Homo sapiens: one gene and its partner. The protein of the gene in region 1 interacts with the protein of each later gene in a biochemical or structural test. Each region holds a gene or a part of one and is shown in the gene's direction. Other genes may lie near its edges.

Evidence for each region. The genes of interacting proteins can lie anywhere in the genome.
Region 2: the proteins of PACSIN2 (region 1) and WASL form a complex in vitro, tested with the Homo sapiens proteins (one study listed by BioGRID).

The regions. Positions count from the first base shown.
Region 1 is NC_000022.11:42,886,150-42,889,649, reverse strand, and holds part of PACSIN2 (protein kinase C and casein kinase substrate in neurons protein 2), read left to right. Parts: intron 1-851; coding exon 852-1,007; intron 1,008-3,500.
Region 2 is NC_000007.14:123,704,004-123,707,503, reverse strand, and holds part of WASL (actin nucleation-promoting factor WASL), read left to right. Parts: intron 1-677; coding exon 678-764; intron 765-1,130; coding exon 1,131-1,227; intron 1,228-2,846; coding exon 2,847-2,870; intron 2,871-3,500. UniProt on the Homo sapiens protein: Regulates actin polymerization by stimulating the actin-nucleating activity of the Arp2/3 complex. Involved in various processes, such as mitosis and cytokinesis, via its role in the regulation of actin polymerization.

The DNA.
Region 1 (3,500 bases):
CTGGCCTTGCGCTGCCTTCCTCCGCCTCAGAATCATCCAGAACATGCCTCTGTCCTTCCGGATGGTTTTCTCTGTGTCTCCTTTTCTCTGTGTCTTAGCTTTTGTCACATCTCCTTTCTCTTCTGTTTTGTCCCTGGCCCCATTCATAATGAAACTGTCTGTGTCTCATGAGGCCTTTGCTAATAAACTCCTCCTTCCCTCTAGAATGAAATTTGTGGCTTTGGCTCAAATAAGGAAGGATCTGTTAAGAGTGTGTGTGTGTGTGTGTGTGTGTGTAAAAACCATTAAAACCAGAGGAAATGTGGCTGATGGCCCTGCCCCCTAGTATGGTCCTCTCTCTCATGCTGGGTTCCTCCTTGGAACTTTCTTTGTATTTGCCGATCCTGCGGCCTGGCATGGTCTTCCTGGGATGCCCATAACCCCTCCATGTGCGTGTTCCATGTGCGTGCTCCATGTGCGTGTTCCATGTCATCTCAGTGGCTTTCTCCACCCACCCCATGCTCCGTCTCAGTTGTCCTCCCCTACACTTAATGCCCTCTAATTGACTCTGGCATGTAACTTTTCCTATACTGTATCTGCCTCCTGCAACTCAAATGAAAGCTTCACAAAGACCTTGTGTTTCTTGCTGTGTTCCTGGTGCCTCGAACCATGCACAGGACAAGCAAGTACTCCATGAATATGTGTTGAGTGCGTTCCTGTTGTGACTGGTTGCTATGATAGTATACATACAATTTTGTACCTGCCTTTTTCTCCCCTCTTGGTAGCACAAGCATTCCCATGGTCTGTGTGACTTCTAGTGAGGATCCTGAACTCCCAGTGACATGGCATTCAGGAACTCATTCTCCCTGTAGGTAGAAGCAGCAAAGAAAGCCCACCATGCAGCGTGCAAAGAGGAGAAGCTGGCTATCTCACGAGAAGCCAACAGCAAGGCAGACCCATCCCTCAACCCTGAACAGCTCAAGAAATTGCAAGACAAAATAGAAAAGTGCAAGCAAGATGTTCTTAAGGTAAACTGTACACTTGTTTTTACACGTCGAGTGTCACCGTGTCAGTTGTTGACGTGTCTGGCATATAGCCTTCTGTAACTGCTTGGGTGAATGGGTGGATAGAGGGATAAATAACCAATAAAACACACCCCTGTCCTCAAGAAGGCCACAGGTGAGTGCCCTAGCACCTCGCCTCACCATAGCCACTGTACCTGCTCAGTCAAGGGACAGAGCCAGGCTCTGGGCAAGCCAGGGGTAAGAGACAGCTCTTGGTGCTCAGAGACACAAGGACAGCTGGGATTGCTGCAGGGAGCTGCTTGTGCCAACATGGGCGTCGCCAGTGGTGGGTGTGAATGGGTGTGGCTGGTGGCAGGTGTGAATGGTTGTGGCCAGTGGTGGGTGTGAATGGGTGTGGTGTGAGCTGGTATGGAGGGTTATGAGGACCAAATCACCAGTGGCCTGGACAGCCAGGCTGAGTAAGGAGCTTAGGATGCTGCTGACCAGGAGCCACTCAGGAAGGCCTGAGCCTGGGTGGGATCAGGGAGGAGGTGAGGAGGGTGAGATGGTTTAGAAGGATTGCTCTGCTTGTGTAGGGAGAGGGGCTGGGGGCAGAGACCTGGGGGAGGGACTGCAGGCTGGGAGCGCTTGTCTGGGGGAGCCAGGTGGGAGGGAGGATGGAGGGGCCCTGCAGTCTCCACAGTGACAGGCCCCGAAAGTGAGGCAGAGGCTGTGGAGCCAGGGGTGGCAGAAGGGTGGTCTTTGGCCAAGGAGAGACCGTGACCAGGCACTGTGGCATCATGGGTGCCCTTCCATTTCTGTTGTGAAGCGGAGATTTTCTGCCCCATGGGTTAATGAGAAATCATTGTGTAAACTATTACATGCTCCGCAGGTGTAGATAAGTGATTCTGCCTGGAAGGTCCTGGAGTCACAGGACTTAAAACCAGACAGCGTCATCGTCTTGTGATTTAAAAGTTCACAGGAAGGGAGGGGCTCAGCCCTCGGCCCCACCTCCCCTCCTTTGGTCAGCCATGAGGGGTGAGGGCTGGGGGGTGTGATTGCCGAGGGCCTGCCCTGCCTCGGTGTTTGGAGAGGAGATTCCCAACCAGGATTTGCAGAGAGAGACGGAATGAGGTAGAGAGAGGCTGCACTCCAGGAAGAGGACATGGGCAGAGGGGAGGCAAGAGGCCTAAGCTGGTTTCACTACCCACCAGCCTTTCCTGGCCCCTGTCAGTTAGGTGGTGGCATCCCTGTTTTGTGAATGAGGAAACCAAGATCAGAGAGGTTAAGTCACGTGCCATCCAGCAGGTGAGAGCAGGAACTTCTGACCTCAAGCCCATACATATGCCCTTTCTCCACTGTTCCTCACTGCTATGCCGTCGGTGTAGCAAGGGGAACACGTCATCTACACGAGAGTTCGTCACTCAGACCAAGTGTCAGAATCCTCTGGGAAACCCCTCTCACTCCCATTGCTGGAGCCAGGAATCTGGGCTTTTGAAGCAGCCCAGGTGCCTCCACGGTGGGATCAGGTGAGGAGCCTGGAACCAACTACTGAGTGGGAGGCACCTGGGCTCAAGAAGCACAAGGTCCGGGAGAACTCTCGGGCCTTTGCCAGAATCCCAGGGAATCAGGTGCCCAAAAAGGTGCCTAGAGGAAAGATGGGGCTTCTCCATGTTGGGCGGGGGCGTGCCTGTGTGAGAGAAAGGGAGACAGAGATGGAGAGGAAGAGGCCTTTCATGTTTGACAGCCACCCAGAACATCAACTCAGGCTTTTGCAGAACAGGCCCAGGGCTCGAGGTTGGACATAAGCGCCTGGCAGGATGACTGGGACAGTTTGTAGTGGGTTCCCTCCTGGGACCCTCCCTGCCTCTTTGGTCTGGCCAGTGACTGCAGGATATGAGAGGTCCTTGTGTGCCTAGAGCTCTGGAGAGGAGGCCAGTCCCTCCCCACCACCCTTCTTGACGCAGTTTCCAAAATCCAGCACACAGCCTGGGAAACATAGTGAGACCTCATCTCTACAAAAAATTTAAAAACTTAGTTGGGTGTGGTAGCACGTGCCTGTAGTCCCAGCTACTTTGGAGGCTGAGGCGGGAGGATTGCTTGAGCCCAGGAGTTCAAGGCTGCTGCAAGCTGTGGTCACACCACTGCACTCCAGCCTGGGTGACAGAGTGAGACCTCATCTCTAAAGTAGGTAAGTAGGTAGGTACATACATACCTACCTACCTACCTACCTACCTACCTACCTACCTACATACATACCATTGCTGACTGGTTGCACATGTACTTTCATGTTTCTTATCAGCCATCAACTACATCTTGTAGCATCCATCATAAAAGAACTTTTTGCATTTAGTGCTAAAATATTACAATCCACCTAAGGGTGAAGGCCGCCTCTTGTTTTACTCCATGGGTGTTCGCTGAGAACTTTCTATGCCCTGCAAGGGGATTTCCAGAACAGTGATGACCCTGCTGAGTACCTGGCCTGTGCTGGGGGCAGGACTTGGGGCTAGCAGGGTC
Region 2 (3,500 bases), on another chromosome or scaffold:
AGATTAAACATATTTTTTATACTATGGCAATAGATATGGCAGCCATCATGGCACTCTTATCCATAGTTTAACCTTGATACATTTTAATTATCAGTCTCTTTCTGCATCATGATTAATACTACTTATACTAGTATATAATTAGAAAGGTACTCTGCAAAAGTTAAGAATTTGAAGATGGTTAATTAGCAGTACAAGGAAGGTATATTTGACCCTCCCACATCTATAAAATTGAGGAAAAGAACATAAAGTATTCCTGCAGTGTTTGATAGTACATTGTCTAAATATTGCTGGTGGAACTGTGCTTTGGTAATCAGTTCATGTACAAAAGTATCCTATTCCTTCTATGTAACATTGATGACCTAGTAATTATTCTGGTTATTATGTATTTGACCAAGTAGCTGAATTTGGAAATGGTTGGCTAGTGAGATTATATCTTAGCTGAATTAAACTGACTTGATATGTAGGTTTTATGAAAGATACGTTATCCAGTGTTTTCAGTTTTAAGAAATTACTGATTAGATTATGTGACACTATTTATATATTATAAATATGTTACATGTGTGCATTAAAAGTTATTTTTAATATAAACAGTTTTCTTAATATGAGTCATCTTCTTTGTTTTATTCCTAGAGATTATGTTTTGGTAGTTCTTATTTTAATTTTTAACTTTTTTCTAGGATGGGAAACTATTGTGGGAACAAGAGCTATACAATAACTTTGTATATAATAGTCCTAGAGGATATTTTCATACCTTTGCTGGAGATGTAAGTCATATTTTTCTTTATTGCCATCTTTACTTTTTTCATTGCTTGCCTTTTCTAATCCAAATTATTTATAGAACCTTATTGAAAGATCAAATTCAATTTGCTATTTTATTTTTTTGCTGAAGATGAAATATTCAAATTAGTATATGTGTCTGCTGTGATAGGTAACTTCTCTAATAGTAATCTTTTACTTGAACTTCTTCATGCTTTTGTGTTAAGTTATTCAGATCATAAAATAATGTCTTATCTGCTAGTAAAATTAACCTTTCGTTCTTTAGAAATATACTTCTTTTCCTCATTGTTTTTATGATATAAAGCTAAATTCATACATTCTGTTGTTTCCCCTTTGTGATGAAAATATTTCAGACTTGTCAAGTTGCTCTTAATTTTGCCAATGAAGAAGAAGCAAAAAAATTTCGAAAAGCAGTTACAGACCTTTTGGGCCGTCGACAAAGGAAATCTGGTAACCCTTTTTTAATTACTTAAATCAGGCCAGCAAACTAATGCTCATGGGGCAAGTGTGGTCCATTTCCTGTTTTTTGTAAATAAAAGTTTACTGAAACTTAACTGTATTCATTGGTTTACATGTTGTCTTTGGCTATTTTTTGTCACAACACAGTTAAATAGTGATGACAGTGATATATGGTCCTCAAAGCCAAAATTATTATCTGAAATATTTACTATTTACAAAAAAATTTGGTGGTCCTTACCTTAAAATAAATAATATTTTTGTTGAGAACTATTTTTTTTAGATTTACCGAAGGGCCCAATACAATAACCTTTTTTGTTGATAAAATTTCATATATATTGACTTTTAATTTTGCATTTGTGATAGCATTTTTTGTAAAGTTTTAAAAGTATTTTATACTTTGTAAACAAAGACTTTAGGTAAGCTTAGAAGCAAATAAGCAGAGTTGCTAACAAGATCTGTAAACATTGCCTTGTCTTTCTATTTTGTTCCTAATGCTATATACTATAAAACCCATAAGGAACTTAGTTTAGTGTGTGAAACAACTCTAACACATATAAAACAATTATAGAACAATGCAGGATAGTATAAAGCTTTAAGTTAATTGGAGTAGAACTATTACTTGACAACAGTGAACCAGGTGTTTCTCTTGTAAAGTGGAGAAGGGTGACTAGGAAAGGGGAACCTCTCCAAAATCATCTTAAGCAGATGAGTTTCAGAAGAAAGAACATGTGCTTTCATCCAGTCCTATAGTTCCAAAAACTGTATGCCAATGACTCTCAAAGTTTTTTCTTCAGTACTGACACATCTTCCCTGACCTTCAGACTCTGTCTACTCAAGTGGCAGAATAGCCTTTAGACTTAACACGGTCTGAGCAGAATATTTGATCCATGTCCTGTATCCTGAACCTTAGCCCCACTCAGATCTGTTCCTATTCTTCTACTAATCTTCCTTGTTTCAGTAAAAGGCATTTGTTCCATCTTATCCCTCAGGCTCACCATGGTCCCTCATAAATCCTATCAGAGTCCTATTGACTCTGCCTTCAAAAACATGTCCTGTCTGACTATTTCTTACCATTTCTGCTGCTACCATCCTAATCCAGGCCACCATGATCTGTCAGCTGGGCTGCCACACTAGCTCTCTGACTGGTCTTCCTGCTGCTACTCAATCCTTTTTACTATCTCTTTTCTATACAGTAGCCAGAGTAAACTTTTAGAATTGTAGATTAGGTTATATCACTTTCTCTATTTAAAATTCTGTAAGAGCTTCCTATCATATACACATAAAATCTATAGTCCTTAACCATGGCCTGTGGAACCCTACATGATCTAGTCCCTGACTTTCCTTCTTGTCTCCTTTCACTGTGCCATTTGCTCACTGTAGTCCAGTCTTCATGATGTTCTTTCATGTTGCACCCTCCTTGGGGCCTTTGAATGTATTGTTCCCTTACTTATTTTATTTAGATCTCTACTTAAATGTCGGGTCTTCTGAAAAATCTTCCTTAGTCACACGTATGTCAATTTAGGAATAAGACAGTTTAGTGAATTAATTTTTTTATGTTGATGTTGTCTTACATATATTTAATAATATTCTTCTAATTTATTTTCTAACAGAGAAAAGACGAGATCCCCCAAATGGTAAGCTTTTTGACAATTATTAATCTTTTAAGATTTTAGATGACAGTTTAATCCTTGTGGAAACATGTACCATACATTAGTAATATTTAGTATCTTTTACATGTTAATCCTTGTGGAAACATGTACCATACATTAGTAAGTAATGTTTAGTATCTATGATCAAATTATACAGTTTATTGTGTTCCTATTTTTAATTAATGATTGACAGATGAGACTTAGGAAACAATATTCTTTGATATTTTTCTAACATGAAGAAAGAATACATAGGGTGAAGATCACTAATACTTATTATATTTTAATTCTGGATTCACAGTTGACTAAGTATACAATCGGACCTTAACATTTTTCCTAGAGGCAGTACATTTTGTCTAGAATATTTGTTAATGTCCTACTTTAAGATTTACCTTTCATTCTTATTTCAAAATATTATTTCACATTGCTTATGTGTTATATGAAGCCCCTTTCAAAATGAACACCTACTGTTGTGGTGTATTTAGAACTAATTTAGCTCTGTATAATGCTCTTTAATTTGATAATGACCACTTGAAGTATTATGAATTCATTTTTTAAAAAACATTGAATACCAGAGAGTAAAAGCAGAATACCAGGATGTAAAAGATAAGGTCTCAG